7 linked regions of the Homo sapiens genome follow. The protein of the gene in region 1 purifies or fractionates together with the protein of each later gene. This does not show direct contact. Each region holds a gene or a part of one and is shown in the gene's direction. Other genes may lie near its edges. The genes, in order: KCNS3, HCLS1, PIGA, RHBDF2, FNTB, VANGL2 and PDZD8.

The links.
Region 2: the proteins of KCNS3 (region 1) and HCLS1 purify together in Homo sapiens (affinity purification with mass spectrometry; one large-scale study listed by BioGRID and IntAct). This does not show direct contact.
Region 3: the proteins of KCNS3 (region 1) and PIGA purify together in Homo sapiens (affinity purification with mass spectrometry; 2 studies listed by BioGRID and IntAct, with this or other methods). This does not show direct contact.
Region 4: the proteins of KCNS3 (region 1) and RHBDF2 purify together in Homo sapiens (affinity purification with mass spectrometry; 2 studies listed by BioGRID and IntAct, with this or other methods). This does not show direct contact.
Region 5: the proteins of KCNS3 (region 1) and FNTB purify together in Homo sapiens (affinity purification with mass spectrometry, with the first as the bait; 2 studies listed by BioGRID). This does not show direct contact.
Region 6: the proteins of KCNS3 (region 1) and VANGL2 purify together in Homo sapiens (affinity purification with mass spectrometry; 2 studies listed by BioGRID and IntAct, with this or other methods). This does not show direct contact.
Region 7: the proteins of KCNS3 (region 1) and PDZD8 purify together in Homo sapiens (affinity purification with mass spectrometry; 2 studies listed by BioGRID and IntAct, with this or other methods). This does not show direct contact.

Annotation. Positions count from the first base shown.
Region 1 is NC_000002.12:17,881,667-17,885,166, forward strand, and holds part of KCNS3 (delayed-rectifier potassium channel regulatory subunit KCNS3), read left to right. Parts: intron 1-3,500. UniProt on the Homo sapiens protein: Potassium channel regulatory subunit that modulates the delayed rectifier potassium channel activity of KCNB1 by namely slowing down the deactivation and inactivation time constants.
Region 2 is NC_000003.12:121,643,904-121,647,403, reverse strand, and holds part of HCLS1 (hematopoietic lineage cell-specific protein), read left to right. Parts: coding exon 1-85; intron 86-2,475; coding exon 2,476-2,586; intron 2,587-3,500. UniProt on the Homo sapiens protein: Substrate of the antigen receptor-coupled tyrosine kinase. Plays a role in antigen receptor signaling for both clonal expansion and deletion in lymphoid cells. May also be involved in the regulation of gene expression.
Region 3 is NC_000023.11:15,329,024-15,332,523, reverse strand, and holds part of PIGA (phosphatidylinositol N-acetylglucosaminyltransferase subunit A), read left to right. Parts: intron 1-531; 5' UTR 532-593; coding exon 594-1,308; intron 1,309-1,876; exon of another isoform or gene 1,877-3,500. UniProt on the Homo sapiens protein: Catalytic subunit of the glycosylphosphatidylinositol-N-acetylglucosaminyltransferase (GPI-GnT) complex that catalyzes the transfer of N-acetylglucosamine from UDP-N-acetylglucosamine to phosphatidylinositol and participates in the first step of GPI biosynthesis.
Region 4 is NC_000017.11:76,491,424-76,494,923, reverse strand, and holds part of RHBDF2 (inactive rhomboid protein 2), read left to right. Parts: intron 1-1,769; exon of another isoform or gene 1,770-1,862; intron 1,863-3,500. UniProt on the Homo sapiens protein: Regulates ADAM17 protease, a sheddase of the epidermal growth factor (EGF) receptor ligands and TNF, thereby plays a role in sleep, cell survival, proliferation, migration and inflammation. Does not exhibit any protease activity on its own.
Region 5 is NC_000014.9:64,989,895-64,993,394, forward strand, and holds part of FNTB (protein farnesyltransferase subunit beta), read left to right. Parts: intron 1-3,500. UniProt on the Homo sapiens protein: Essential subunit of the farnesyltransferase complex. Catalyzes the transfer of a farnesyl moiety from farnesyl diphosphate to a cysteine at the fourth position from the C-terminus of several proteins having the C-terminal sequence Cys-aliphatic-aliphatic-X.
Region 6 is NC_000001.11:160,410,564-160,414,063, forward strand, and holds part of VANGL2 (vang-like protein 2), read left to right. Parts: intron 1-3,500. UniProt on the Homo sapiens protein: Involved in the control of early morphogenesis and patterning of both axial midline structures and the development of neural plate. Plays a role in the regulation of planar cell polarity, particularly in the orientation of stereociliary bundles in the cochlea.
Region 7 is NC_000010.11:117,291,941-117,295,440, reverse strand, and holds part of PDZD8 (PDZ domain-containing protein 8), read left to right. Parts: exon of another isoform or gene 1-1,977; intron 1,978-3,500. UniProt on the Homo sapiens protein: Molecular tethering protein that connects endoplasmic reticulum and mitochondria membranes. PDZD8-dependent endoplasmic reticulum-mitochondria membrane tethering is essential for endoplasmic reticulum-mitochondria Ca(2+) transfer.

The DNA of each region.
Region 1 (3,500 bases):
TTCTATCCCTTGCAGTCTGACTGCAGAGCCACTGTGAGATTCAGTTTTCCTCATTTATTCCTACAGTTCCAACACTGTTCCCTGTGCTTAGTGGGATCTCGGACTACATTTGTTGAACAGTGACAGAGGGGGCTTACAGTTACCAAGTGACTTTTGGGTCCCATGTCTCAGCCTTAAAAGGAATCTCAAAGACTGCGTTAGCAAAATATTATTTTTGCCTTTGACAAAATGGTCTGCTTTTCGGTGAAATTCTGCCCAGCTGGTTAGGAAAAAAGGAAGATAAACCATAAAGATCATGGGCCAGGGAAACATTATGGTGAGTTTCAGAAAATGTGTTTATCAATATAAGAAATTCAGAAAAACCACAGAACACTTTGTACTCCGACGCAAATTTGTCAAGTAAATCAACCAGTGACCAATTCACAAGTGCTTATTGTATGGGTGCTAAGTGCCCAGTACTACAGGCAATGAAGGTAGGCAGAATCTATGACATGGTCTCTGAGCTTGAACTTATAGTGGATCTGGAGACTCCAGATCAGTGAGACAAGATAGAACAATACAAGATGCTAAATGTTTAAGTCCTGATAAAAATCACAATGACTCGGTCACATTTGTATAACCTATTGTGGTTTGTAGGAACTTTCACATGGGATATCTCATTCCAGTCCTCAGAGCAACTGAGAGTTATAAGCTATAGGTGGGACAGAAGTTAGGAAGCCCATATTGCTGATGAAGAAATTAAGGCAAACTGAGCCTTGAACTTGGACACAGTCAGGGGTCTTCTGACTTTAAGTCCAGCATCTTTCTGCCTCACTTCTCTCTGGAGCTAGAGAGCAGAACAGGAGGGAGTGAGCTATCGAGAGTCCTTGGGGAGTGGGGAACTGAGTTTGAATTTCATCCTGGACCTGGCCTTTGCTTGCTGGTCTTGACTACTGTGGGTGCTTATTGGAGGCAGGGGATGGGGAGTAAGTACAAGCTGGGGAGGAGGAGAAAGAGGAGAAGAGTGTTGTTGTTTTATTGTTTCAGGGGCCTGCTGTTTTGTGAAGCCTGGAGTGAATACTCAATTATCATGAACATAATAACAAGGCTTAAAATGTACAACAAAATGTAGAAACTGATTTAGAATTTTCATCCCTGTTTTTCTTTATCATTTCTCTAGATCATCTTTTGAAACTTTTTAGCATATCTGCACATTATACTTTTTTTTCACAGTTGTTAAGAGGATCAAAATCTACACATTATAAAAGTAAACTCTTTAATAAGCTAAAATAGTTACTAGGCTAGGTTGTGGTATTTTTCTTGTGGGCAAGAGGTCTCATTCTCTTTGGAATCCTGCACAGCCTTGCACTACGATTTGCTTTGAGGAGATACTGTATAAATATTGTCTTCAGTTGCACAAGTATTGAACGATAAAGGCATAAGATCTGCTTTTAGCCAATAATGTTACAGTTAAGCAGTTAATGTTGGCAGCAGCCAGCCTCAGTGAGTTTGGTGAAGTGCCAAATGAATGAAGTATCTTGCTGAGTATTCTACTAATCAGCCATCCGAGGACTTACCAGATGCTCACCAAAGGTGACATAATGATTAACTTATATAGTCACATATATGTATTCTCATTATATATTCAAATCCGTGCATACATTCATTCAACAAGTATTTGAGTACTTACATGATGTTATGTACTATGCTAGGTGCTGGGTATACTGTGGTAAAGGAAACGGTGGGGGGTTGGGGTGGGGTGGGGTGGGGTGAGAAGTGGGAGGGAGACAGGCATTAAACAAACCAATGCAAAATTTAAGTAGTGGTAAGTTCTCTAAAGGACTTCATGGGAGAGAGTAACAAGGGTAGGGAGGCACTAGTTTAGATGAGAGGGTCAGAGAAGACCTTTCTGAGGAAGAGACATTTCATTTTGAGTGATAAAAGGAGTCCATTAAGTGAAGAGTGGGAGAAAGATAATTCCAGGCTGAGGATTCTAAGGCAGGAATGAGCATTGAGCCTCTTTTTGTTCTATGCAGGAACTTCAAGAGAACAAGGGTGGGAACAGCTGGGAGGAGGTTGTAGAAGAGGGCTGGGGTCATCCCATTACTGGGTATATACCCAAAGGATTATAAATCATGCTGCTATAAAGACACCTGCACACGTATGTTTATTGCGGCACTATTCACAATAGCAAAGACTTGGAAACAACCCAAATGTCCAACAATGATAGACTGGATTAAGAAAATGTGGCACGTATACACCGTGGAATACTATGCAGCCATAAAAAAGGATGAGTTTATGTCCTTTGTAGGGACATAGATGAAGCTGGAAACCATCATTCTCAGCAAACTATCGCAAGGACAAAAAACCAAACACTGCATGTTCTCACTCATAGGTGGGAATTGAACAATGAGAACACTTGGACACAGGAAGGGGAACATCACACACCAGGGCCTGTTGTGGGGTGGGGGGAGGGGGGAGGGATAGCATTAGGAGATATACCTAATGTAAATAACGAGTTAGTGGGTGCAGCACACCAACATGGCACATGTATACATATGTAACAAACCTGCACGTTGTGCACATGTACCCTAGAACTTAAAGTATAATTAAAAAAAAAAAAATATATATATATATATATATATATATATATATATATTTAAAAAGAAGAGGGCTGGGGTCAGATCAAGCTGTGCCCTTTAGGTCAAGTTCAAGGTCTTATGGTTTATTCTGAGGGCTGTGAAAAATGGATTTGCAGAAGGTGAGTGTCACAAGCCAATTTAAATTTATACAAGATTGCCTGGGAAGGCTGTGAAGAACAGATAGAAGAATAGACTGAAGAGGTACAAGCATGGGAAGCAGAAGCCTCGTTTGGAGGTGTGTTGTGTGTTGCAGAAGTGGAACCTAAAGTGAGATTGGCCTGGGTTGAAAGATGAATGGAGGTGAGGAAGTGCAGACCATACACATAAAGCTTGGTTGTGAAAGGGAGCAGAGAGACAGGATGGGTGTAGGGGCAGGTTTGTGTCTATGTGGAAGGCAACCTTGGCTGAGGTTAGGGATGTGAGTCCAGCTCGTTGGTAAATTAACAGATATATACCTCTGTGTATAGAGTTATAGCACTTCTAGAACATTAGACATTTGAATCCTATCTCTGGCTTTATCTCAAAATCTAGGTAACTTTAAGCATATCACTTTGAGTACTTCTAGAAGATTAGACATTTGAATCCTAGCTTTGGTTCTGTCGCCAAATCTGGGTAACTGAGCATATTGCTTGTCCTTCCCTGTTGTTTTTTTTTTTTTTTTTTCCTCACTGCCTGGTGATTTTATAATTTTTTTAAAAATGCAGTCTTCCTGCAATGTTCTTTAATAGCATTATTTATATGTGTTAATGTGGGTTATTTTTTATAAATTGAATTAGCAGAACTATGAATGGGGATGTAGGAACATTTGTGGTAGGATTCTAAGCATTTGCTCATTGTTGATCATGGATAAGCTGCTTTCAAATTAGCTTAAATAGAGAG
Region 2 (3,500 bases), on another chromosome or scaffold:
CAGGAAGAAAGAGATGGAGTCAGGGCCCAAAGCATCCCATGGCTATGGAGGTCGGTTTGGAGTAGAAAGAGACCGAATGGACAAGGTAAGTTGAAAGGGAAAGATTTGCTTTAAAAAAATACAAGCCGGGTGCGGTGGCTCACGCCTGTAATCCCAGCACTTTGGAAGGCCAAGGTGGGTGGATCATGAGGTTAGGAGATCGAGACCATCCTGGCTAACACGGTGAAACCCCATCTCTACTAAAAATACAAAAAATTAGCCGTGCGTCGTGGTGGGTGCCTGTAGTCCCAGCTACTCAGGAGGCTGAGGCAGGAGAATGGCGTGAACCTGGGAGGCAGAGCTTGCAGTGAGCCGAGATCATGCCACTGCACTCCAGCCTGGGAGACAGAGCGAGACTCTGTCTCAAAAAAAAAAAAAATAAATAAAATAAATAAATAATACATTAAAAAATTGATATATATACTTATATATTTTGTAAATATGTATAATTATATACTTATATATAATTATATACCTCTATAATAAGAGCCAACTATATATAAGTATATATAATTGACTCTATAATAAATAATTGGCTCTATAATAATTGGCTATAAAATAATTGGCTCTATAAGAGCCAATTATATGTAAGTATATAATTATATAAGTATATATTTATTATATATACTTATATATTTTATATATGTTATAAATATAATATAATGTATATTATATTTTATATATTATATATAAGTGTATATATATTATAAGTATATATAATATAATATATACTTATAATATATAATATATAATAAGTATATATATTAATATATATTATATATATTAATATATGTAATAAATATATATTAATATATATAATATATACTTATATACTTATATATAACAGATACTATATATAAGTATATATAATATATAATATATCTATATTATATATTATATATCATATATAATATATAATCTACATTATTAATACATTATATTACATATTATTACTATGTAATATATTACATAGTAATATATTACATAGTAATAATATGTAATATAATGTAATATATTATATACTATAATTAATATATAATATATATTATATTATATAAGTATATAAAATATAATACATAAAATATAATATATATTATATATTTTTATTTATAAATATATATAAAATATATATAAATATATAAAATATATAAAAATATAAATAATATATTTAATATTATATTATTATATATTAATTATAAGATATATTATATATATACTTATATATAGTATCTGTTATATATAAGTATATATTATATATAAGTATATAATTAATATATTATATATTAATACAAGTATATAATTAATATATTATATATTAATACATTATATATTATATACTTATATAATTATTTATAAATATATTTATAAATATATATTATTAATATATGTTACATAATTATAAGTAAATGTAAATATATAAATTTATATTATGTATATTTTAATATATTATAATTATATGATATAACATATTTATATTATAAATATATAGTTTATTCATAAATATATAGTATATAATATTTAAGTATATTTAAAAATTTTGCTAAAACACCCAGATACTTTTGTTCTAGATCAAAATATATATTTTTTGACTCATTCATTGGTTCATGAGTTAAAACTCATTCAAAAGTACAGTAGTCATTTGGTCTAAAATATAATGTCCACATATTATTTGTATCAAATTTTTCTGATCTCAACACATAAGATATACATGGCAGAAAATAAGAACCAAGATATTAGAACTGCTGGCCTGTTGTAGCCCCAACCACATTGTAACTCCTAGACCAAGAAGACAGGGAGCACAAGTGGAGAAGGAAAAAATATGTTTTAAAATTATTTGCTGCATTTAAATGTTTATGTATTATGTCTATGTTGCAACTTCTCTTTATTATTTTATTTACTGTGTATTTAGTGATTTTTTTTGTATACATGTCCTACATTACATGGTGTATAAAGCTCAGAGTTCACTTCTGAACTTTGATGGCCATACAGGAGCAAAGATCTAGAACAAAATCATTGGCTCTCCTAGTGAAATATTCCATCCCGGCTATGGCGTCCGGTCAGTCCCCTTGGTCTCTCCTCCACACTACCCCACACTACACTCTGTTCTGCTGCACAATGCTCTTGTTTCAGCTCTTTTTGTTTCTGGTTTAAACACTGCTCTGTCTACCTTGTCTCTATCCCCTGGTTCCCAGCCCATCCTATGGGAGTGTTCAGAATGAAGGATTCCTAATGGTATTAGAGAAGAACAGGGATGAGCAGGTCTCCAGAAAAAGTCATCTTGCTCTCCCATCGCGTATTCCTTGGCACCACTGTCAGAGGCTATAGATCTGACCCAGAATGGAATTTCTTACATGCCTACATCCCACTCCATATCTGTATTTATTTTTTTAAGGTCATTTTTATCTTTTCACTCACTCCATCCTTGATTTTTCTCAGAGTGCAGTGGGCCATGAGTATGTTGCCGAGGTGGAGAAGCACTCTTCTCAGACGGATGCTGCCAAAGGCTTTGGGGGCAAGTACGGAGTTGAGAGGGACAGGGCAGACAAGGTAAGTGACCACTCTCTCTCCCAACCACCCACCTCCAGTCCTGTGAAAATTGCCCACGATCACCCCTGGATGGAGGCACATGCTTCTTTGTTGAAAGACAGGACAGTGGATGCTGTGAGGACCTGACACCGTCACAGGGATACCTCCCTCAGCAAGTTCCTTGGTGCCAATGTTGGAAGCCACATGCTGAGCTGAAAGACAGTGATTCAAATAGGAGAAGACTCTCAAACTGTGTGTTTGAATGAATAATTCCTCAAGCCACTGGTTTTTATTATACTCATATGCATGAAGATAGAACAGAGAATCATCTAAGCTCTTCTTTTGGCTTAACATCAAAACCTTATAAATACTCATGCCGTTTAGGAAAACAGATTCATCAGTTTAAATATTATTGCCATAGCAGCAGATAATCAAGTTAAACAACTAATTAGGGTTACTATTTACAGAATTTAGCATCAATCTATGAAGTCCAGATATCTTTAAAGACTCCTTTGTACAAAACAAAACAAAATGTTGTTTTAAAGAGAAAAAAAAGTACCGTATGATTACAGCATCATATCGTTGACAGGAGAGTAAGATTGATAACTCATCGATGTTTTTAGTTCCACGCCTTATTAGGTCGGATTCTTTGAACTCATTTTTTATGGTGCAGAATGGTGTCTCCTGCCCTGCAGCTGCACACAGAGAGAGGACAGCTCCTTCACAGTTAGCTGAGATTTTTTCTTTGTTTTTACCAACAGTTGTTAATTAGGTGGACATGCATCCTTAAAGCTAAGGATTGGAAGCTAAGGCAGCTAAGTTCTAGAAAATTAATTGTTTGCATCATGGGGGGTAAAACCATGAAAAACAAAATCAGGAAAGTTTAAAACATACTGCAAAGCTAAGGGAAGATGTAGAAGGCAATAGTGAAATAT
Region 3 (3,500 bases), on another chromosome or scaffold:
AACTGAACAAATTTCTTAACCCCTTTAAGCTTTAGACTTTCCATTTATAAGATGGAGTTGATAACTCATGGAGTTTTGGTGAGGCTGCAATAAGATATAGAAGAGTCTTAGCATGTAGTAGCTGATGTATAGTGGCCATTTAATAAGTATTAATAGAAGCTGGTAAAGTATAAGAGTAAAGGGGAAATATATAAATGTGTGTATGTATGTGTGTATATATACTTAATTATTGGAAGAGACTGGTTTGTTAACGTGGTAAACCATGATATGCTGTGGTGTAACAAACTTACTATTTAAAGTTACATGTAGCAGTATTTTTAGGGCAAAATTAAGACATGGTAGAACCTAGTTTTGTTGTATGTAAATGCCAAGCAAGTAAATGTCAAATGAGTAAATTGATGATTTGCTTTATTTTTAATTCTGGGGAAAGCTAACAAATTTACATTAACATTAAAACAATATCTATATCTGGATTTGTAATATGGAATGTGTTTTGTTTCTGAGCTGAGATCCTGTTTTACTCTTTTTCAGGTAATAGAGGACACATCTCTTAACTGGGTTGCTCTAAGAACTGATGTCTAAACCGTCTCAGCATGGCCTGTAGAGGAGGAGCTGGGAATGGCCACCGTGCCTCAGCTACACTCTCTCGGGTTAGCCCTGGAAGTCTTTACACATGTAGAACCCGTACCCATAATATATGCATGGTATCTGACTTTTTCTACCCAAATATGGGAGGCGTGGAAAGCCACATTTACCAGCTCTCTCAGTGCCTGATTGAAAGAGGGCATAAGGTTATAATTGTCACCCATGCTTATGGAAATCGAAAAGGCATCCGTTACCTCACCAGTGGCCTCAAAGTCTATTACTTGCCTCTGAAAGTCATGTACAACCAGTCTACAGCCACGACCCTCTTTCACAGTCTGCCATTGCTCAGGTACATATTTGTTCGGGAGAGAGTCACGATAATCCATTCACATAGTTCTTTTTCTGCTATGGCCCATGATGCTCTCTTCCACGCCAAGACAATGGGGCTTCAGACAGTCTTCACGGACCATTCCCTTTTTGGATTTGCTGATGTCAGCTCGGTGCTTACAAACAAGCTTCTAACCGTGTCTCTTTGTGATACAAACCACATCATTTGTGTGTCTTATACTAGTAAGGAAAATACTGTACTAAGAGCAGCACTGAATCCTGAAATAGTGTCCGTCATTCCTAATGCTGTAGATCCTACTGACTTCACTCCAGACCCATTTAGAAGGCATGATAGTATAACTATTGTTGTTGTCAGCAGACTTGTTTACAGAAAAGGTAATGAAATGATAGCTATAATTGCATTGTAGACTTTTTTCCCTATAGAAAGCTGTTGAATACTTGTATATAATGATTGTTTGGCTTTTCATTTTGTTTTATGGTTTTATAATGCTATAAATTATAGCAAAGAAAGTTCTAATATTGGTTTATATATCCAAGAAGAGCGATTTTTCAGGATGGTGGTGAATGCTGTCCCCCAACCTTTGATGTTTTAATGGTTACTAAAAATAAGAATAACCTGATGCTGTTAAATTTCAGATCTTTTTAAAAATTAAAACAGCCCTGCACATGTGGTAAAGAAGTAGAGGGCAGGCCGTGTACGGTGGCTCACACCTGTAATCTCAGCACTTTGGGAGGCTGAGGCAGGCAGATCACGGGGTCAGGAGGTTGAGACCATCCTGGCTAACATGGTGAAACCCTGTCTCAACTAAAAATACAAAAAATTAGCTGGGCATGGTGGCAGGCTCCTGTAGTCCCAGCTACTCCGGAGGCTGAGGCAGGAGAATGGCATGAACCTGGGAGGCGGAGCTTGCAGTGAGCAGAGATCGTGCCACTGCACTCCAGCCTGGGCGACATAACGAGACTCCGTCTCTAAAGAAAAAAAAAAGAAGTAAAGGGCAGAGCTCACAGATGGCTTTTTTCTTCTGATTGCCAAAGTAATGTCTTTTCATTGCAGATATTTTGGAAACTAAGAAAAGCACAAAGATGAAAACTAAAATCAGCTGTAACTGTATTATTCAGAGATACCCTAATGAGTATTTTGATTTATAGCTTTCCTGTCTTTTTTATGTGTACGTACATATACTGAAAATCAGTGGGCTTGCTCTGCACGTTACTGTATTGTAGCTTGCTTGTTTCATTTCATCATGTATAAGACATTAGTAACATATTGGCAGGTAAGTGATGAAGAAAAGGGGATTAGATGTCCTGGGATCAGATGATGGGTCTGTCCTGCTGTGTGATCGAGGACAAGTAGCTTAACATCTCTAAGTCTCAGTTTTTTCATTTGTGTAATGTAAGCAACATTGGGAACCTCGCAAGGGTTCAGTGATAGTTCCTATAAACTATTAGCCTAGTTTGTAACTGTCCACTATTATCAAGGAGGTTTTTGGGTTTTTTTTTTTTGAGACGGAGTCTCGCACTGTCACCCCCCGGGCTGGAGTGCAGTGACGTGATCTCAGCTCACTGCAACCTCTGCCTCCCAGGTTCAAGCGATTCTCCTGCCTCAGCCTCCCAAGTAGCTGGGATTACAGGCGCCCACCACCAAGCCCAGCTAATTTTTTGTATTTTTAGTAGAGACAAGGTTTCACTATGTTGGCCAGGCTGGTCTCAAACTCCTGACCTCGTGATCCACCTGCCCCGGCCTCCCAAAATGCTGGGATTAACAGGCGTGAGCCACTGCACCTGGCCAAGGAGGCTGTTTTTTGTACCTCTACAGCACTTAATGGACACTGCAGTTGAATGTGTGGAGGCTTGTTTACTAAAAGTCTGACACAGTCTGGTTATAAAAAACAGTGTCTTCTGAGTGCTATTTGAAAACCTGTCCACTAATCAAAAGTGTCATTTATAGTAGGGAATCATTAAAAAAAATACATAAATACATACCCCCTTAAATAGTTAATATTTGAATTAAACTCAAAATATTAATACACACTGAGTTGCCCGTAGTTTGATGTAGGATTGCAGGCTTTGAGTGCTGGGCCACTGGTTTCAGCTGCATCTTGCACACCCTCCTTCATAAAACATAATCTACCATTGCTACTTTGAGTTTCTTTTGGGTGGGGTCAGAACTTAAAGGCGTATGAACTGATATGCTTCAGGAGTTTTAATTTGTTTTCAATTTTATACAGTAGTTTAGGACACCCCTCATCTGCCAAGAACTTTTTTCTGTGACATTCCTTTATTGGATTTTTCAAACTGTTCAGCTTAGTTTTTGTGGATACTCTTTTTGTCAGTTTATATGATAATTAAATTACTCAACACGACGATAACAAGTACAACTGACATCAAACAGATGTGTGAACAAACAATTGATTCTTGACAAGCACTGAATTCAGTGGTGTGCCAGTGTGCTAGGGAGTGGCCTAAAATCTAGATGTGGGCCTTGGTCAGTTTACGTTTGGAATGGAGAATCTTGATTGACCCAGCAGTCCATTTAAGTGGAGGTTGGCAAGGAAACTTGGCCTGAA
Region 4 (3,500 bases), on another chromosome or scaffold:
GCTGCTGTGCGTGCCCCCTTCCCTTCATTGCCCCAAAGCCTGCAGTCCAGCCCCAGGCTCGGGAGCTGCTGCCTCTTCCCTGGGATGTGGAAGGCACCTGCATCCCCGCCCAGCTGCTGCCACTTGCCTGCCTCCATCAGCAGCTTTGTTTTATTTTGTCTGTGTGTTTTTTGAGATGGAGTCTTGCTCTGTCGCCCAGGCTGGAGTGCAGTGGCGTGATCTCGGCTCACTTCAACCTCCGCCTCCCAGGTTCAAGCGATTCTTCTGCCTCAGCCTCCTCAGTAGCTGGGATTACAGGCACCCGCCACCATGCCTGGCTAATTTTTGTATTTTTAGTAGAGATGGGGTTTCACCATGTTGGCCAGGCTAGTCTAGAACTCCTGACCTCAGGTGATCTGCCCACCTCAGCCTCCCAAAGTGCTGGGATTACAGGTGTGAGCCACTGTGCCCAGCCTCCACCAGCAGCTTTTGAAATCCAGAAATTTCCAGGGGAGGGCACTGTGGTGGGTGGGGCCCAGCGCTGTGTCCAGCTCGAGGCCTGGCTGCACTGCCACCTCCTTTGGTGCCCACCCCTGTGTCTTGCCAGCAGCTGCTGCACATTGGGCTTCGGGGATGCAGGACTCCAGCACCCCCAGCTCAGCCTGCTTCCTGGACCAGGAACCCCAGCCGAGGAGGGGGCATTTGTATCTCTGCCATCCCTGCTGGCAACTGGTCCTGAGAAAGCCCAGATGGTTGGTGCAGAGGGGGCGTCAGGGGCTGCACCACCCTAAGAACATGACATGTCACCCCCCAGCCCCCCGCAACACACACACACAGGTTCACACCTCACACCCCTGATCTTGGCGGCTCCCTGGAGCACAGCACCCGCTTCCCGTGTCTGTGGTTGGCTTATGACGCCCCAGCCACTCTAACCGGGTTAAGGGGAGCCCAGAGCCTGGGGCCGGATAGGAAAAAGCCCAGAGAAGTCAGGGGATGGTCAGTCCCCTGAAGCTGCCCCTGGGGGTTCTTGATCTTCTGAACTGAGTTCGAGGCAAGCCCTGGAGGGGCGAGGAGGAGAAAGAAACAGCTCTCTGGGCCAGGACCCGCTGTTCGTGGGATGTCTGGGGAGCTGTGTGAACCCACAGGCCGTTTTGTTTCTCTCCATCAGCAGCTGTGGGCTGAAGCGTGTACCGGCGGAGTGGGTTGAGATCGTGTCTGCGCCCACTTGCCACCAGCTCCGGCCTCTGGGGAGGTGGTGCTGAGAGGGAGGGAGAGTGGCTCCTGTTTGGCTCCTGGAGACAGACAGCTGGGTGTCCCACCCTCAGAGTCCCCAGCCCCCTCTCCCCTCTGCTAACTCTGCCGGTGGAGCTCACGCCGCAGCTCATGCCAACCCTGCCCTTCTGTTTTGCCTCTCATGACTCTCCCCAAATTCTGCCCCCAGGCCCCCAGCCAGCCTTCTTGCCACTTTCCTGCCCTTTACTCTTGCCCCTTCTACCTCTTGCCAGGGCAGCGTCACTGGCTACGTGAGGCCCAGCTTGGGGATGCATGGGGAGGTGTAAGAACAGCTGTGCCATGAGCTGTCCTTCCGGGCCTCTGGGGCTGGAGAAACCCCGGGGTCAGCAGTACCACGGGTTTTGCTGGGGATTGCACAGTGGGTGAGGCTCAGCTTCCTCTTTGCAGCTTTCTAAAAATGCCCTGGTTCCCAGCAGGGCCACAGGCAGGGAAAATGAGTTTCAGTTTCTGTGGCAAGGGAGCTGGGGAGAGAAGCAGTTTCCTTGTCCCCAGCCCTCACCCTAGCATCCTGTGATTCAGCCGCGAAGACGTGGCCCCAAGCCTCCCACCGCCCTCCTTCTGTCCTGACTGCCCACTCCCAGGGACACCAGGTGACGCCTCGCCCACCCGCGGCTCCGGAGCCAGGCTGGAAGCAGCTTCCCGCCCAGGGGGTGGTTTCCCCACATCCTGTCTTCAGATGGCTTGAGCCCCCTAAACTTCCTGGTCATATCCAGTGGATAATAATGGTCTCCCTCTTTCCTGTCTGGAGGGGAGGGGGCTGCTTACTTCTTATCCAAGGGCCTGTCCCGTCCCACCCCTGTGTCCCCATTTCTGGCCACACGCAGGCTCAGCCCTTGCATCAAGCCTCTGCCTGTTTCCCTCTGGGCTGCACCTGTCACGCTCTCCCTGCCCTGCCCCATAAAGCCCATAGAGCCCAGGGCTTGTGGGGACTGCACCCTTCATTAGCAAGACTCAGAGCTTCTAGAAACCCACTTGTGTGGGGGTGGGGAGTGCAGGGAGATTGGTGGCACCAGGTGGAGAGAGGGAACTGCACCTGGGGGAGTTGGGAGGGGCAGTGGGCTGGGCCCGCGTGGAGGAGTGTGGCTTGTACAGTCCGCATGGCGGGGGGACCCTTGTACCCTGCCTGGACTGGCTGGTAGAGCTGTTGGGGACCTCCCTGGGGGTGGCCTTGCTTACCCAGCTGTGCGGAACAGGCTTGGTTGGGAGTGCCTGGCCTCACCCTTTGTGGGGAAACCAGATTCTCTGGGCAGCAGTGGTAAATGGTGTCTGAGTCTGTGTTTCGTTGGATGTGTCTGAGGTCCGCTGCTGCCAGCTGGGTTATGCTGTCTCCAAAGCTATCTGCAGTGGGGGAGGCCCTGAGCCTGGGCAGGGGAGGGTACAGAGGCCTCAACCCATGGGACCTGGGGGTGATCTGAACTCTGCACTTCACTTTTTTTCAGGATTTCCCCCGCCCCACCCTAAAGGAGGAGGAAATAGAGTCTGTCCCACCCTAAGCCCCAGTCCCTCTCCCCAGGTCTCTTTGGCATCTCCCAGCTGGGCTGGGGCTGAAGGCCCTTCTCTGGGGTTGGCCACAGTGAGGCCAGGATCTGGCTGGGCAGGTGGCAGTGTTCCGCCTGTGGGCTGGGTGCGGAGGCGGGCCTGGGGGTCTTAGAGAGAGAGCGGCGGATGTGACTGCGGGCCAGGAGGAAGCCTGGTCCCAGGATGTCACCATTTCCCCTGCAGTGAGCAAGCATCTCTAGGGCTCGGAGATAAGTGCTGGGTGGGGTAGCTCCAGCTCTCCAGCGCTTTTTTCTGTCTGGTTCCTGCCATCTGGACTTGAGCCATGAGGAAGGCCAGAGTGGGTCTGACAGTCCCCACTCCTTTCCCCGCTGAGCCCCAAGGAAGGGGCTGGGCCTTTGCACCCCCACCCCAACTTCTGCACGAGTTGGAGGCAGTTGATCTCAATGGTGGAAAGTGGCTGGTGCAAAGTCATGCTTCCATACTCCATGTTTAGGCTTCATGGGTGTCAAAGCTGGGCCGTGACCTTGTCCCATTCCCTCAGAGAAGGGAACTGAGGCCAGAGGGTGGAGCTGCTCTCAGGCCGCTGCCCAGGCCTCTTGTGCTCTGCGGTTCAGATGGCACTCCCGATGCCAGGCTCCTGCCCAGGAAGACATGCCCACCCGCCCTGGCCCTGTCTCTGCTGTCTGGTGTCAGGCCACCTCTCTTCGGGACCCCCCCCCAACTGATTG
Region 5 (3,500 bases), on another chromosome or scaffold:
CCTTGGGATAGAGGGGATAGGGTGTGTCAGGAATGGGTGGGGTGGGAGCAGGGGAGGTCTTCATATAAGGTGTTAAGGGGAACCCTCTGGTGACAACACATGTGATCTGAGACCTGAAGTCTCAGATGAGGGAGGAAGCCATCATGGATCTGGTGCAAGAGTATTCTGGGCAGAGAAAGCAGCAAGCACAAAGGACCAAGGCAGCAGAATGCCAGGTGAGCAGGGGGCTTAGCAAACCAGAGAGTAGGAGATGGGTCGGATCATGTAGGGTCTCATTGGCCTTTGGAAGTACTTTAAAATACCCTGACTGAGATGGAGAGCCACTTGGCTGTATACCTGCCATTTACTGCCCCAGATTCACTTGGCCCTTTTCTAGCCTGCTCTGTAGATGTGCCCCAGGAGGGGGCCCTGCACTGACAGGTTGCCTTGCTTTATGGCTGCGGGCCATGGGAAGTATTGCTGGGGGTGACCGAGAAGGAGAAGAATGAGACCACTGTATTTCTTCCCTCCTGCAGGCTTGTGTGGGGTGGGGTTTCCTTAGACTTAAGGTCACATTTCCTGTCATGTGCCTTCTCTGCGGAGCTCTTTGTCTCCCTCCCTCTCCATCCTTCACACCTTCAGGTCTATGAGGAGTTCAGGTACCCCTGATTTACCAGCTCCAGATACTGCATTTTCTCTTGTGGTTTCCCTACACCTGCCCACATCTTTGTAAATAGTTCCTTTATAAACTCTCCTCAAATCACCCACTTTGTGCCATCTGTTTCCTGCCAGGACTTAGACTGATCCATGATCAGAGAGTTTTGAGCAGGGGAGTGACACAGTCTGACTAGCATTTTAACAGGCTCATTTAGGTTACTGTCAAGAGTAGATGGTGGGGAGTGAGGGTGGATACAGGGAAACCAGTTAGGAGGCTATTGCAGTATCCTGGGAGAGAGGTGACGGTGGCTTAGCTCACAGTGACGGTAGTGGAGGTAATGAGAAATGGTCAGCTCTGGATATTTTTATGAAGGTCTCTACCTTGCTAAGCTGTTTTGTTAATGCAGATGCAGGGAGGGCCTTTCATGACACTAGAGAACAAGACATGGTTGTATTGTTAGTGCCTGCCTTCCTTATTGTGCCATCTGGAATCATCCCATTGCAGACACTCTGATTCAGGCCAGTAGGTTAATACTGATAGTCTCAGAGGTAGCAGCCTTGCCAAAAACAGGTGTTTACAAAAGATACTACTGTTTTTCTTTGAGTTTGTCTTTGAACAGAGGCAAACGCGTCCTCCACTTTAAATGGCATGGTGTCATTGAACCATTGGCATGGTTCATTGTCAATGAAGTGACTTGAACTCTGAGGGGAATATAAGAGAATTATTAGTCTTGATCCCTGCCCTCAAAATTCTTTTATCTTAGAGAGATAAAAAAGAATATGCTGTAAGGCCGAGTGCGGTGGCTCACTCCTGTAATCCCAGCACTTTGGGAGGCTGAGGCTGGCGGATCACTGGAGGTCAGGAGTTTGAGACCAGCCTAGCCAACATGGTGAAACCTCATCTCTACTAAAAAAATACAAAAATTAGCTAGGCGTGGTGGTGTGCACCTGTAATACCAGCTACTCAGGACACTGAGGCAGGTGAATCTCTTTAACCTGGGAGGCGGAGGTTGCAGTGAGCCGAGATTGCACCATTGCACTCAAGCCTGGGTGACAGAGCAAGACTCCATCTCAAAAAAGAAAAAAATAAGAAGAATATGCTATAGGCAGTCACAGAGTGCTAAATTATAACTGCTTTGCACGAGGATTTTGGGGAGTTGAAAAGCCATCTGTGTGGGCTGAGGTGGTCAGGATGACTTCATGGAGAACGTGGAACTGGGTGGGCTGTAAAAAATAGAGTTTGGGGCAGCCATTCAAGGAGGGAGAGCTGTTTTGAGGGAAGACTCAGGCTTGACTGGGGGCGTTAAGATGGCTTACCAGGAACGGAGGGTGCAGGTTGGATGTGGTAGGAAATGAGGTGAGCTGGGCGGGTGGGCCCCTATCAGGGTATTAAGAGGCAGGTGATGTGCTGGCTTCAGGTTCGGGCAGTGGGCCACCACATATCCTAAGGAGGGACCAGCGGAACAGAATCCTGACCTGCTGTTGACTTATTTCAGCTTATAGGATCCAAAATATTAGTAAATGGAGGTGGAACAAATCACTAAATATGATAAAACTTCCCAACTTTTTATGCCTCTGATAGAAGGGACTGGAGCTCTGCTTGGTTAGGTGGTCAGTAGGCTAGCTTTCTGAATCCATTTTATTTTATTGAAATTCAGCATATACCATATTGCCCAAGTGTAAAGTAATCCTGCATATCAAAATTTCCCCATTAAAAAGTCCAAAAGGTTGTTTTTGGTCAAGTTGAAAATACATGTACTTTTAGGTATATAAGTGAAAAATACCTGCTTACAAAATTTACATTTAAATTTGGGTCCATATACCTACTTAAAATCACCTACTTTATAAAGTAACACTAATTTAGAAATGCTGGTTTTCCTCCTCTTCTTATTTATAAAATGTTTCTTTTCAGACTCTTCACATGCATCTTTGACTTCACTATTTTTATCATCACTGGAGCCACTTTTTGAGTCAGCCAATGTGGATTTCCGGACCACATGTTCAGTTCTTGAGATACATCGTTTTTGAATATGAATAAGGTGTTACCACTGAACAGTTTATTCCAAGTTACAAGTATCCACTTGCATAACATTAGACTTTTTTTTTAAGAAAGGGTCTCACTTTGTCGCCCAGGCTGGAGTGCGGTGATGCAATCACCACTCACTGTAGCCTTGACCTCACAGGCCTGCCTTGGCCTACCAAAGTGTTGGGATTACAGACGTGAGCCTAGAATTTTTTTTTTGCAGTGTTTCCAGTTGGTATATATTTGTGGTCACTGCAACTTAACCACTTTATTACTTTTTCAAATGATTTCTATTTTTTTTTAAAGACAGGGTCTCACTCTGTTTCCCAGGCTGGAGTGCAGTGGCATGATCATGGCTCACTGTAGCAACTTTCCAGGCTCAAGTGATCCTTCCACCTCAGCCTCTTGACTAGCTGGAACTACTGGCGTGCGCTACCATGTTCGGCTACTTTTTATATTTTTTTGTAGAGACAGGGTTTCCCTGTGTTGCCCAGGCTGGTCCCGAACTCGAGCTATCCGCCCACCTTGGACTCCCAAAGTACAGGCATGAGCCACCGCGCCCAGCTAAAATGATCTTTAAAACGTTGGTCTACTGGCCAGGCATGGTGACTGATGCCTGTAATCCTGGCACTTTGGAAGGCCAAGTGGGTGGATAGCTTGAGCCCACAAATTCGAGACAGCCTGGGCAACAGGGTGAGACTCCATCTCTAAAAAAAGTAAAAAATGAATAAACAAAATAAAAAGCTGGCCTTACAATGGCAGTTTACACATGGAAGTGTGAGTTTATATCTCCAGGGATAATTACTAAATTTGTGTTTAATTTATCTTGTTTCACTGATTA
Region 6 (3,500 bases), on another chromosome or scaffold:
GCTGGCGTTTGTGTTCAACGCCTTGCCCACTTGAGCCGCCTCCTTTGAGTGGGAAATGGGAAAGGGTTGGTCCGCCCTGGTCTGTGTTTTGGCCAACACCCACCCCCCTTATACACACACACACACACACACACACGCACGCACGCACGCACTACTCTAGGGCCCTGCTCCCTCTGCCTGTTGCCAGGTTCTGAGTGTATTTTTTCCAGAGGCCTCCAATTGTTTCCTGAAGAAACCTGATCCCAGAGCTCAGACAAAAGCTGGGGCCGCCAGAGGAGAAACCCCATTCTCTCCTCCTCTGTCCCTATTGCCCCCACCTCCATAACCTCCCTCCCTTTGGATGCTGGGTATGGGTTCCAGGACCCGGCTGCCATCACCTAGGCAACAGGGGGCTTTTGTTGCCATGGTGATCAATGTGGGAGAAGCTGGGCAGCAGGGACAAAAGCCCCCACATTCCCCCCTGCCAAGCTCCCCCCCAATCCCCTTGGGATGATACTGAGACACATTCCATTAATTTTATTTCTGAAAGGCCTTTGGAGGGGAGAAGGGTCTCCTTTTTGTAACAGGCTCTCTCTTCTCTCCCTCTCTCCTCCCTGGCCTCATTTTAACCCCAGATAATCCATGGTTGGTTTGAGCAGGGGACTGAGTGTGTGTGTTTGTGTCTTGGGAAGTGGGGGGCAAGGTGAAAGGCAGTGGGGCACATTCCTTTTCTATAGCCTCCCCCTTCCCCAGACTAGGGCAGCTCCCTGTCCTGCACCAAGTCCGGACTTCCCTCCCTGTCTCGTCATCCCTCTTGACGTTTCCACTTGTTGATCTCATCCAGCCATCCCCTCCCCCCATCTCTTCCCTGGGAACGCTGCCCACCCAGGGGACCCTCCAAACCCCTGATCCCTGAGACTGATTAAATAAGGGGAACTTCTGCCCTTCTCTTTACTCCCCTCTCCTCCCTCCTCCCAGGCCCCCCAGCAGCAGTGCTTGGATTAGTTCCCTGGTGTACTTGAAGACACAGCAGGCAAGGGTCTCAGAAGTCGGGTTCATTTTTGGCACCTGTGTTTGGTAGGGAGGAGACAAGCGTGTTTTGGTGCTTTTTGGGCACTCTGACTTGGGTTGGCAGGCCAGGGGAGCAGGATTCATGTTGAGTCTTTAGTAAGTAGCAGGGGAGGAAGATAGGGGGCACTAGGCTGGGCAGCTCAGAACAAAAGGGGACTGGTACCCTTGTCTGGTTTGAAATTTATCTGTAGGGGAAATGAAATGGCATCAGTTTACCTTCTGGGTGTGTTTGAAGTGGTGGTTCTGGTTGGTGTGTGTGTGTGTGTGTATGTGTGAGACTTCTTTATTTAGTTGTACTAACAGCAGGGTTTATTTATACCACCTCTTTCCCTAGTCTCAGAGGAAGTGTCTGAGGATTGGAGTATGAGTGATCCTGGAGCTAAAACTTGTTAATTGCTTAACTAATTACTAGCTGAACCATTTATAAAAGCACTTCTTTCACCCTCGTGATCCTTACGGCTACCCCATGAAAAGGCATCATTGTCTTCACTATTTTACTAATGAGCTTACCAGGCTACAAGCACAGAGGTGTTAAGTAACTTGCACATAGTCACACAGCTAGTCAGTGGAAGAGTTAGGTTTTGAACTCAGATCTTTGAGTGCACATCTCTGGCTCTTCTGGCTGTTGGCTTTGGCAGATGATGGGTATACAGGAGGATGAGGAGATGGACAGCCTGGGATCTAGTGTGTGTGTCTAGACTCTAGTCCGTGGCAGTTGTTTACTTCTCCACCCCCTTCTCTACCCCCATGTCACTCTGTGACCCACTCGTTGCCTTTGAGCCTCCTAGCAAAATTCAGTTTTTATGAAGAAGACTAGAAAGAATAGGCTGGAACCACAAGAGAAATGCAGGTCAGATGTCTAAACTATAAGGAGGAGTAGGCCAGTAGAATGGGTCCTCAGGAGAGTGGGTAGATGAGCCCAACATATATTTTTCAGGTAGGGGGATAAATAAGGGTCATTTTTGCTGCAAAGTTTTTTGGAAAGGCTTATGGTTGGGTTAAGGTATTATGTCCCTGTCCTCTAAGTGTGTCCTTATCACGCACGTGCTTTGACATGGGGATACTGACAAATATAACTAATCCTATGGAGGATTGCCTCCATTGAACTCTGTTAAGAAGATGAATGAATAGATTTCACATGCTTTCATCTCCCTACAGTCATTATAGTTTCCCTGAGAGCCAGAGAGGCATACAGTCATGGATGTTTTGGTCAACGATGGACCACATATATGATGGTGGTCCCATAAAATTATACTATTGTATTTTTACTGTACTTTTTCTATGTTTAGGTACACAAGTACTTACCATTGTGTTACAGTTGGCTACAGTGTTCAGTACAGTAACATGCTGTACAGGTTTGTAGCCTGGGAGCAATAGGCTATACCATAAGGCCTATGTGTGTAGTAGGCTATACCGTCAAGGTTTGTGTAGGTACATTCTATGATGTTCCCAGGATGCAGCTGCCTAATGACACATTTCTCAGAAAGTATCCCTGTGGTTAAGCGAGGCATGACTATGTTCATTTACTAGGTTGGTATCAGTTCCTTGCTCTGTGCCCATGGGAGGCGAGATGGATATAAATATGTATCAATCATATTGCTTATTCTCAAATTACTGATGGTTTAGAGTAGTTGGAGTAAAGGTAATGATACAAAGCAAATCCATTTTAGGTTTTTTTTTTTTTTGAGACGGAGTCTCGTTCTGTCGCCCAGGCTGGAGTGTAGTGGCATGATCTCGGCTCACTGCAACCTCCACCTCCCAGGTTCAAGCAGTTCTCTGCCTCAGCCTCCTAAGTAGCTGGGATTACAGGCACCTGCCACCATGCTTTTTAGTAGAGACGGGGTTTCATCATCTTGGCCAGGCTGGTCTTGAACTCCTGACCTCGTGATCCACCCGCCTTGGCCTCCTAAAGTGCTGGGATTACAGGCTGGGATTACCCGGCCCCATTTTAGTTTTTAACATAATCAGCCTCTCAGCAGCATTTGACCTGGTTGACTTAATTCCCACCTCAAAACACTGTTAAATTTCTGGCTGCCTTGAGACCCCACTCTTCTGGCTCCCCTCCTCCTCTGGCCTTCTCATCCCCTTTGCCTGCTCCTTTTCCTCTGGACATGTCTACCTATTGGGGTCCTTTATGTCCATGGAAGAGTTAGGTTTTGAACTCAGCTGGATCTGAGTTCTATCTATCCCCATAGCTTTTCACACACTCAGTACCTCCAGCTCAGACTGTCCTCCAAGTCTGGCTCGTCTGACACCTGGCTGCCTACTGTCTCATGGCCACTAACTTAGCAGGCTAGAAGCTGAACTAATTATCTTCCCTCACAAGGCTGCTTCCTCCCCAGTCTTCCCTACCCTACTGATGGTGCTACCATCTGCTCCCTTGCTCAGGCCGGGGATTCTTAACTCTCCCTTCCCGCTCATTAGGTCCTGTTGATTTGACCACCAACATT
Region 7 (3,500 bases), on another chromosome or scaffold:
TTAAAAGAATGTATTTTGCCATTGTTGAGTATAATGTTCTATAAGTGTCAGTTAAATCAAGGTTGATGATGTTGAGGTTGCCTGTGCCTCCACTTCTTTTTTCTAGTTATATTGGTTGCTGAGAGGATGAAGAAACCAAGTTTTACCTCTAACAGCAGCTTTAGTAAAGTTACATTGCAAAGAGACATGCTTATAAGAATAGGAGGAATTTGTTACCATGTTTTATGGTCTACCACTGAGTTCATTTTCAGTCTTTTTTGGGTTTTGTTGGTGGTGGTGGGTTTTTTTTGTTTTTGAGGCAGGGTCTAGCTCTGTTGCCCAGGCTGGACTGTAGTGGTGCAGTCATGGCTCAATGCAACCTCCACCTTCCCAGCTCAAGTGATCAAATCAGGATAACTAGCATAGCCATCACCGCAAACATTTCTTTGTGGTGAAAATATTAAAAATAATCTCTTCCAGCTATTTTGGAATATACAATACATTATTAACTATAGTTACCCTATTGTGCAATAGAACATCAGAACTTATACCTCCTAACTGTAACTTTTTATAGCCACTTCTGATCTCCCCACTCCCCCTATTCTCCCCAGCCTCTGGTAACCACTCTTCTACGTCTATTTCTATGAGATCAAGTTTTTTAGATTCCACATATGAGTGAGATCATACAGTATTTGTCCTTCTCTGCCTGGCTTATTTCACTTAACATAATGTCCTCTGGGTTCATCCATGTTGTCATAAATGACTTTTCTCTGGGGTTTTGTTTTTTGTGGCTGAATAGTATTCCACTGTGTTTGTATACCGCACATTTTTTATCCATTTATCCATTGATGGACTCTTAGGTTGATTCCATAGCTTGGCTCTTGTGAATAGTACTGCAGTAATCAAGGAAGTGCAAGTATATCTTCATCATACCAATTTCATTTTCTTTGACTATATACCCAATAGTGGGATTATTGGATCATTGCTAGTTCTATTTTTAAATTTTTGAGGAACCACTGTACTGTTTTTCATAATAGCTGTAACTAATCTACTTTCCCACTAACAGTGTATAGGAGTTCCTCTTCTTCCACATCCTTGTCAATATTTGTTTTTTTGTTTTTTTTTTTTTTTTTTGTCTTTTTGGTAATAGCCATTTATTTGGTAATATGTGTCTTCTCTCTTGTTTCTTGATCAGTTTAGCCTATAGGCTTACCAGTTTTATTGGTCATTTTATTGAGTCAGCTTTTATTGATTTCTCTATTATTTAAGTATCTGTTCCATTGGTTTCTGTTCTTTATTATTTCTTTGCTTCTACTTTGGGGTTTAATTTCTTAAAATGGGGACTTAGGTCACTAATTTTAGATTTTCCCCCCTATATAAGCATTTAAAACTATAAATTTCCTCTAAAACACTACTTTAGTTGCATCCCACAAATTCTGATTGGTTGCATTTTCATCATTTCATTTGAAATATTTTTGGATTTCTCTTGTGATTTTTCTTTAACTCATGAATTATTTAGAAGTGTGTTGTTTTGCTCTCCAGATATTTGGGGTTTTCCTAGTTACTAATTTGTAATTTAATTCCACTATGGTCAGAAAACATGCTTTGTAAGAGTTCTGTCTTTTTAAAATTACTGATATTTGTTTCATGACCTTCTACATCCTGGTGAACTTACCATGTACACTTGAAAAGAATGTATTTTGCCATTGTTGAGTATAATGTTCTATAAGTGTCAGTTAAATCAAGGTTGATGATGTTGAGGTTGCCTGTGCCTCCACTTATTTTTTTCTAGTTATATTGGTTGCTGAGAGAGGGATGAAGAAACCAAGTTATACCTCTAGCAGCAGCTTTAGTAAAGTTACATTGCAAAGAGATATGCTTATAAGGATAGGAGGAATTTGTTACCATGTTTTATGGTCTACCACTGAGTTGATTTTACTGTTCTCTGTACTTTTGTATATATTGGAAATTTTCTGTAATAAAATCTTAAAAGCCAAACCCTCTCAGGTGATATTATATTCCAGGGAATGCATGTTGAAGCCACAGCATGCTTCACCATGTACAGGAAAAATATTTAGGGTTTCTATTTATGTTTGTTTTTTACATTGTCATTTTAAAAGTTCTATTTTGGCATATGTTTTATAGTGCCAGGCATATCCAATAGTCATAAATAATTTTAAGATATAGATGCATACATATGGGAGAGAATTATATATTATATATCATTGTACTATTCTGGTTTTAAAATAGTAGTTTTACCCTAGTGGAAAATCAGTTTTGTTCCAAAAGTTGTGTATCATTGCATGGTCTTGAACCTTATCTTAAATTTTATATTAAAATAACAATGTTTTTGTGAAATACTCATTTTAAAATGCTTTGTTTCACCAGGCTTTTAATTAAGAGGTGTTTTTATATTCTGAAACTTCTGAATCATGTCAGAACTTAATTAAGGTGATGATTTTCATTTCAGGGAATGCTGAAATTAAAATCTAAAATTAGGTCAGTGGGGTGCAGGCTTAAAAGGAAACAAAAACCAGCTTGTAAAAGAAACAGTGTCTTATGTTCTGTTCCCTGTACATACTTGAAATTAAGAGTATTTACTAATAATCAGTAAAAATTGGGGAGAAAGTGAGGTAATGTAATATTGGCCCTAATTATTGCTACTGAAAACCTTATCTTTTTTTTTTTTTGCATCTGGAATGTTTACTTCAGGTATCATTTGAATTAAGAAAAGCAAAGGGAAAGATATGATTTATAGATAGAAAATAAATTAAGAAACTAAATTACACTAACACCTTACACTAGCCTCTATTCACTTCCTAATCCTACCCCCTGAATCTCCATTCTACTTTTAAAAGCAGAGTAAATAACAAAAAAAAAAAACACATTCCAAATGCAGGTGTTAATTTTTAAACTTTACAGTACTCAGACTTACACTGTTTAGGTTTTCTACCCATTTGCTATCATTAGCTTCCTGCAATTAGAAAAACTTACATTCTAAATTTCAGCTTTGGCAATCTGTATATTAAGAATATATTTATGTTCCTGGATTTGAGAGAATATGTTGTTAAGGGTTTTGTTAAAAGCCTTAATTGTGTACAGCACTTTACATTGTAAGGTGATTAATTGCTGTGTCATAAGGCAGGGATTGGACAAATGTCTTAGGAGATTTAAACACAAATTACGTGTTTTGGCGGGGCTTTGTGTTTTGTAAACCTTTAGGTAATTCAGAATTTGACCACATATCCCATTTCTTGAGCACAGTATGATTAAGATTTTCCTTAAAATAACTTTACAAAATTTGTTAACACCCAAATTAAAGAGCAACTTCCAGTGAGGGTTCTTTTACCAGCGAATATCATTAGGTAGGAAAATTGAATTTCTGTCCAAGTGGGATTTATATATTAAAGCAGTGCAGCCAGTGATATATTTGGATATTAGGGTATTTGGCAAAGTCCCTCATGAGATATCCTTGAAGAATAGGACTTAAGAAATGTGGACTGGAGAATAATACAATTAGA